2 linked regions of the Homo sapiens genome follow. The protein of the gene in region 1 purifies or fractionates together with the protein of each later gene. This does not show direct contact. Each region holds a gene or a part of one and is shown on either strand. Other genes may lie near its edges.

Region 1 (3,820 bases):
GGTCCCTATGTCACTATCACATCTGTCATTTAAATTACGCCTCAGTCCTGTTCAGGAACACCTGGTAGAGGAGGAAGAGCATGGGACTGGGAATCACGGGGCCAGGGTTTGGTCTGGCTTCATCACCAACTCTCATGTGTGAATCTAGCCAGTCTCACAGCCTCGTTAGGGCAGAGTTTTCTCATCTGCATAATAGGAATAAACCATGAAGGTCCTTTCCTGTTACAAAATTCCAGTACCTACAAAAACTACGGTGTGCTGAGAAATTATAATATAATGCATATACCACCCTCAATTTGATTTATACAAATCAAATATTCATATGTGATAGAGGATTTTCTTATAAAAATAAGCTAAAATTATTTCATGTTGTAGCTATTTAAGCCCCCATTTAAAATAAGCGCATACACTATTAAAAGCTGTCATCTACAACAACGGTCAATAAACCCTGCCGTCAGGTCTATCCATCCCACAGAGAGACCCTGAGAATTATCACTTTCAGCTGTAGCTTTGAAACCCAGCTTTCTGGTCCAGCCTGGGAGCTGGGCTCCCTGCTCTGCTCCCATGCACTGGGATGACCAGAAACAGCAGCTGGAGGAGGCACAGAGACAGTGTCCTGGGTGTGACTCCATTCACAAATCCTAAGTGTACACCACTGCCCCCAAAATGACTTCCAGTGTGATGTGGGGTGGCTACGTACCCTCACTTCCACAATTCCAAATGTCAACCAAAGAATTTAAAAGAGGGATACAATAATTCCAAGGATTTCCTCCTTTTAAGTATTTTAAAATTTCTTGCTGCAGTATAATTTACAGACCAAAAAGTGCATAGATCTTGTTGAGCTCAAAGAGTTTTCTCAACTGTATACACCAGTCTGACCATCACCCAAAACCAGATAGACATTTCCACTACTTAGAAAGATTCTTCACCACTCCCTCCAGTCAATTACAAAGCCAACCCCACAAGCCTTTTCTGACTTCTGTCCCCAGACTCTAGTTTTGCCTGTTCCTGGAAGTATACAGATGAAGCCACGCGGTATGTGTTCGTCCTGTGTCTGGCTTCTCTCACTTAGCATAATGTCTGTGAGAGTCATCCATATTGTTTCATGCACGAGTGGTTCATTTCTTTTTATTGACAGGTAGTATTCCATTGCATGAATGGACCACAATGTGTTTACTGACTCAAGTGTGATCAGCACCTGGGCTGTTCCTGGTTTGGGGCTATAATGGAGTAAGACTGTTATGGACATCCTTGTGTAAGTCTGTTGGAGAATCTCTCAAAACATTTTGCTAATTTGTCAAATTATATGTCCTGATATTTCTATTAGACACATGAAAAAATTCTTAAGGGTTAATAAATTCAAGTCTTTTATATTTAGCTTTGGGAGGTATTTTTTAAGTTGTAGATTTTGTCACATTCTGAATTAATACCAACCTAGAGAACAGGGACTGACAGACTGCTGTTCATGAGTCAAACCGTGCTCACCACCATGTTTCCGGAAGTCACATTTAACGGAAACCAGTCATGCTCATGCCTTTACACATTGTCTATGGCTGCTTTTGCACTACAAGGGCAGAACTGGGTAGCTTCGACAGAGACCACATGGCCTCTGGAGTCTAAAGTACTTATTAGCCGGCCCTTTACAGAAAAAGTTTGCCAGCTCCAGGGCTACAGCATCAAATACAAATCAAAAGCCTATTTTGCAATGCGCAGGTTTACATGTTGCATAAGTACAATAAGGTCTTTTTTTTTTTTTTTTTTTTTTTGAGATGGAGTCTTGCTCTGTCGCCCAGGCTGGAGTGCAGTGGCACGATCTCAGCTCACTGCAACCTTCAGCTCCCAGGTTCAAGCAATTCTCCTGCCTCAGCCTCCCAAGTAGCTGGGACTACAGGTGCCCGCCACCACACATGGTTAATTTTTTTATATTTTTAATAGAGCCAGGGTTTCACCGTATTAGCCAGGATGGTCTCAATCTCCTGACCTCGTGACCTGCCCACCTTGGCCTCCCAAAGTGCTGGGATTACAGGCGTGAGCCACCATGCCTGGCCAGATCATTTTTTTAAAAGGAGATTTCTGTACCAGCTCCCAACTCAGGTAAAAATCCACTGAGAAAATAAATAACTGCTGAAGGCAGGGGCTCATGCCTGTAGTCACAGCACTTTGGGGCTACTACACTTTGGTTGAGGTGGGAGGACTGCTTGAGCCCAGGAGTTTGAGACCAGCCTGGGAAACACAGGGAGACTCTGTTTCAACGACAAACAAAATTTAAATTAGCCATGTGTGGTGGTGTGCACCTACAGTCCCAGCTACTCGGGAGGCTAAAGCAGGAGGATCGTTTGAGCCTGGGAGGTCAAGGCTGCAGTGGGCCAAGATCATGCTGCTGCACTCTAGCCTGCACGACAGAACAAGACCTTGACTCAAAAATAAACAAATAGATAAATAAATAACTTAAGTGATGAATTAAGGACTTAAGTAATATTGTCAGTACAAGTTTGACAAAGCTTTTCCACAATGCAAAGGGAAGCGAGAGGACCGACTGCTATAAAATACACCAGTATGATAAGCCTTACCTTTTCATCTTCAAGATATTCAATGTCCGCTGTGTTATAGCCATCTCTGTGGCGGTGGCTTAGCACTCGGAACCGACTGATGCCAATCGCGTCTACAACAGAACTTCCATCAGGAAACGTTCTCACGTCCTTAATCTCCAGCATGCATCCATACTCTGAAAGCCTGAAAAGACAGTTAGGAGAAATGACTGTGATTTTTAAAATGCAGGGGGCCTTCTTTTTCCCTGGATGAGAGTTTACTTTTAAAAGGAATACAAAGCCACACAAAACAGTGTCTCCACATCAGACCAGCAAGGTTATTGTCGCTAAGAGACACGTGCACATGGTCGCTTCTGTTAGATGTTAAATATAGTGGTGATGGTGGCTGCAGGGGAAGGGCTCCAGGTGAGACAGGACTTGTGCCTTAGCGGTTCCAACGGGCTAGTGTTTTGGGAAGGACCCGAGAGATGGGAAGAGATGAAATCTCAAATGTGGCTCCTCAGCCACCTTGGCGGGGCACCATCAGGACTGCCCAGCTGGTGCCACGCACACACTCGGCTTTCCAAAGCTCTCCCCAGCTCTTACCCACACTCCGATTGTAACTATCACCCTTATCCTAGTGATATTCTCATGCTACCACGTGCCAAGCAACACACGGAGCAGTTTATAATACATATGAATTCAAGCCCACACTTAAAATTTGATTCATCAAAAGTCAACAAAGTGAAAAAACAAGCTATGAGTTCCATGTGCACTGAGAATATAGAACACTAAAAAGAATGTGAAAAACGACAAGGAAAACCAGATAAACCACAAAACATATGTCTCTTGAACCCACCAGAGGGTGGAGATTGCTCAGGGTAACCAAACAAAGATCCCACAGGGAGAGAGTAGGCAGAACCCAGGAAGAGACACAAAAGTGTGTAGGAAGCATTCAGCTATTTTTTTTTTAAACAAATTGCCAATGACCTTGTGTGGGCTGGCACCAGAGTGCAGGTCTGGAGAGCTGCACTCACAAAGGGAGTTTGCATCACACACAGGATCCTGTCCACAGATAAGAGCCTCCTTGATGAGTCATGCCCTGCAGTGAGGCAGGCTTGGAGGAGCTGACGTTTATCTGGAGGCCTCTGCTGGTGCTGGTTGCTGGGGCAGCAAGTCCTCCACCTTCAAAGGCACTCCGCTCCTCCTCCCTCCTGCCTTCGCCCACAAGGTCTTCACCTCATTCCAATTCTGCCAGCTCTGCCCTCCCCAACCAAAGTGCCGTGGAAAGC
Region 2 (3,820 bases), on another chromosome or scaffold:
TTTGACTGGCTATTGGGGCAGTTGGGTTCTGTTACTCTGGTCAAGTCAACGTATCTCCCACTCTTTGTTCCCATATATAAAATGGGAAGATCAGCCATGCCTTCATCTGTCTTGTAGAAATGTTTTGAGGCAAAGTCAGAATATTTGAAATTGTTTTGAGCATTTTAGGAAAAATGGATAATAATTCAAAGTGGCCATACTTGTAATTATTATAATCAAGGCCATTGCATTGCATGCTTCCAAGGGGTCCCGTTCTCATTGTGTTGGATGTGAATGGTGCCCCTGGAGGAAGGCACCCCATGATATGGATGCTGGCTTTTCTATCCCCTGCTGACTGCCACGACTCTCCAAAACTAAATTTCTTTCCAACCACCCAGCACCTTGCATTAGAGGACTCTCTTACTTGACTTCATAGGATTTTCAAGTTGGAAATATTTTAATGATCTCCTTGGTCAGTCCCTTCCTGGCAGATGATTCCAACCTCTGCTTGAATACCTCTGGTGTTAAGAATCTTAAAGTAGGCTGGCATCATGGCTTTGTAGTGAATAACTGCCCTTTGGCAAATTACTTACTTTCTGAGTCTTTGTGTTCCTTTCTGTAAAAACATGGATAAGACTTGCCAGGTTGTGAGGAGTAGAAACAATGTGTCTGAAGTGCCTAACCTAGTGCCTGGCACTGTCAGGCATAACAACAAATGGCAACTATTATCATTGTGGTCATCATCATTATTATACCTAGTGTCTTCTGAGATTGCTCATTCCCTTGCCAGCACATTATAAATGAATTTAAGTTTTGCAAGTTCTCTTATTGGAAACTTTGACTAAGTGGGTTATTATTATTTTTTAAAATTAACCTTAATGTTAAGGGCAGAATTGTGTATTGAACACCCTCACACACAAATTGACGAGATTTTATTTGGGTTAAAATAAATATGTTCTACCTGTCTGAGAAATTGTAGCATCAAGGGAAATTAGTTTGCAACTTTAGTACAGTTGCCCTTCAAGGGACAATGTGTCCAGCTTCTAACTTCAGTCTTAGTGAAATATTTACTAGCATGAGCTTGTCCATCAGCACTAAGGCTTAAGATGAATGCAGTTTTATTACTGGAGAATACTTGGCTTACCTTTGACTGTCCTAGGCATTTGCTCGCCCTTCTGGGGGCAAAAATTTATCTTTCCATTTTACAGACCAGAAAATTGAGGTCTGTTAATGAGCAAGTTTGTAACTGAAGCCTGAGTAGAACCCAGGCATCCTGATTCCCACTGGTTGTGTCCTTTGGATTATGCTCACTATAAACAGAGCCTCCCCCTCTCTCCTGCAATGATTGGGCATCTCAGACAACTGCCAGGGATCAATAAGCTGGTAACTAAAAAATTCTCCTGAGATGAAAAAAGTGCAGAAATCATGATCCCACACCATCTGAAGCCTCTCTTAAGAAGATAAGTTAGGGAGAACCCAAAGAAGAGGGACTTGTGCTAATTGCCTGGCTTCCAGGCCATTGCCTTTTCTACCAGCTCCCATTTTACACTGGTGAATTGTTTACGAAAATGAAAGATAGCTTTTACTCAGTAAAGTCTGAATAGTTGTGGCTTAACTTGCTCAGAGGCCTCCTTATTGATATTTGGTGGACAATACCAGAGTGGAAAGGATTACCAGCTTGGGATGAGTGAAAGTACGATCAGGTGCTACTGATGTCAACCCAGAGTGCTGACACTGGCTCCATGTGCTAGGGAAGAGGAAAGGTTTAGCGTGGAAGATAGGTGTTTTGTAATCATTTTTCTCCCAAATGCTTGAGGGATGGCACCTTCCCCTAGCAGCTACGTTGGTCATTGCAAAAGTGGTTTTCACTTGATTGTCAAGGGGCTGTGGGCAAGGGGTGGGTAGATGATGGATGCAACATCAGATAAGAGGGTGGAGAGCAGACATACCTGGTTTGAAAAAGCCCCTCCAAATAATTCTGATACTTCCTCACCCCCATCCCTCTAGGAATCGCTGCCAAAAAGGAAGTAGGGGAAAATCTGAGGGAAGAAAATTATCTATGGAGACAGGAGAGGATCCAGTTAGTTGTTCCTCATTATCATCTCGGGGTCTTGAGGAATACAGAGGCATGTGCTTCATACATAGGAACATCAGAGCAAGGAATTCCTTAAATGTTTGAAATCAAGCTGTAAGCAGAAGGCAAACAAGTTAACTGATATTCCTGGCCCATTGAAATTCGCATCTGCCCAGAGTTCATACTGTTTCTGTTTTATCTGGTTGAAATACATTTTTGCACATGGAGGCAGTCCAGTCATTCAGCAAACATTTATTGAATATTTATAATGTGCTGGGCACCATGTTAGAAGCTTAGGCCATAAAGATGAATATATAGAGCTCTACTCTCAAGTTGGAGTAGGAGAGACCTCAGATAGGTGGGCTTCTCTTGGAAGTAGAGGGGAGGGTTCAGCCACACCTTCTTGATGGGAAGGGTTCTAACCATTGCCCTCACTTGGCTCAGGTGCCGGATGTGCTCACTGACATTCTACTCCAAGTCGGAGATGCAGATCCACTCCAAGTCACACACCGAGACCAAGCCCCACAAGTGCCCACATTGCTCCAAGACCTTCGCCAACAGCTCCTACCTGGCCCAGCACATCCGTATACACTCAGGGGCTAAGCCCTACAGTTGTAACTTCTGTGAGAAATCCTTCCGCCAGCTCTCCCACCTTCAGCAGCACACCCGGTAAGGCTGCTCTTGGTTTACCCCACCACCTGGCCGTGAACCCTAAGACCATGTTGCCTGCACCTACTCCTCTCTCCACATGTATTATTCTTTCCCTTTCACCTTTGCCCATTGGTAGCCTCAACCTCCTATTACTGTCTGTGGAAATTATATATCCTAGCTATTTGGGGGGCCTTGAAAATTGTGGTCTCCAATTCCAAAGTCTGGAACAATTTTTGTGGTTTCTCTCTGTGTCTGTGTTTGGAAATCTTCTGCAGAGCAGGCCTGCTTTTACTATATGCTTCAGTTCAGAGCCAAGGTGTGCATTCAACTTCAGGTCCATGGGGAACAGGCGGTATTGGTCTTTGTTCAGATTACTATTTGGAAGCAGGGTGTCTGTGGTGAGTGTGTTAACCTTAGGAGAAAGCGGAGGGTTGATGAGATTGACTACTTTAAGGTTACCAGGAGCCATGGGTTGCAGCTCTTCATCATCTCACTGCCATTCTAGCCACCGACTTACGATCAGCAACAACCTAGATCTGGGTGTCCTCTTCATTTGCCTATCCAGGCTGGAGTGTTTTTGGGAGGAGGGAGGAAGGGGGTGCTCTCATCCGTCAAGCAACGTCATTTCACCCAGCAGAGAGCTGAGCCCCTGGTGTCGAACTGCTTCCTCCTCCCCCCTTCCCTCCTCTCCTCTCCGGCAGGATCCACTCCAAGATGCACACGGAGACCATCAAGCCCCACAAGTGCCCGCACTGCTCCAAGACCTTCGCCAACACCTCCTACCTGGCCCAGCACCTCCGTATCCACTCGGGGGCCAAGCCCTACAACTGTTCCTACTGCCAGAAGGCCTTCCGCCAGCTCTCCCACCTCCAGCAGCACACACGGTAAGGGAGAGTGGCGGGCTACTGACCCCGCCCCGCTGGCATGCCCTCCCCACCCCCGCCCCGGACACACACAACAACCCGCATGCGGGGGGCGGGGGAGAGACCTGGCTGGAGGAGAGACCTGGCTGGCATCTGGGAGAAGGAAGACCAAACAACACTGGAGATTCAAGTGGACACAGAGCTTCTCTGGGGCAAGAGCTACGTCGGGGAGCTGCAGTGACTATATGATATT

Evidence for each region.
Region 2: the proteins of LONRF2 (region 1) and ZNF384 fractionate together in Homo sapiens (co-fractionation; one large-scale study listed by BioGRID). This does not show direct contact.

Annotation. Positions count from the first base shown.
Region 1 is NC_000002.12:100,287,688-100,291,507, forward strand, and holds part of LONRF2 (LON peptidase N-terminal domain and RING finger protein 2), read right to left. Parts: intron 2,734-3,820; coding exon 2,571-2,733; intron 1-2,570.
Region 2 is NC_000012.12:6,672,118-6,675,937, reverse strand, and holds part of ZNF384 (zinc finger protein 384), read left to right. Parts: intron 1-2,497; coding exon 2,498-2,722; intron 2,723-3,405; coding exon 3,406-3,588; intron 3,589-3,820. UniProt on the Homo sapiens protein: Transcription factor that binds the consensus DNA sequence [GC]AAAAA. Seems to bind and regulate the promoters of MMP1, MMP3, MMP7 and COL1A1.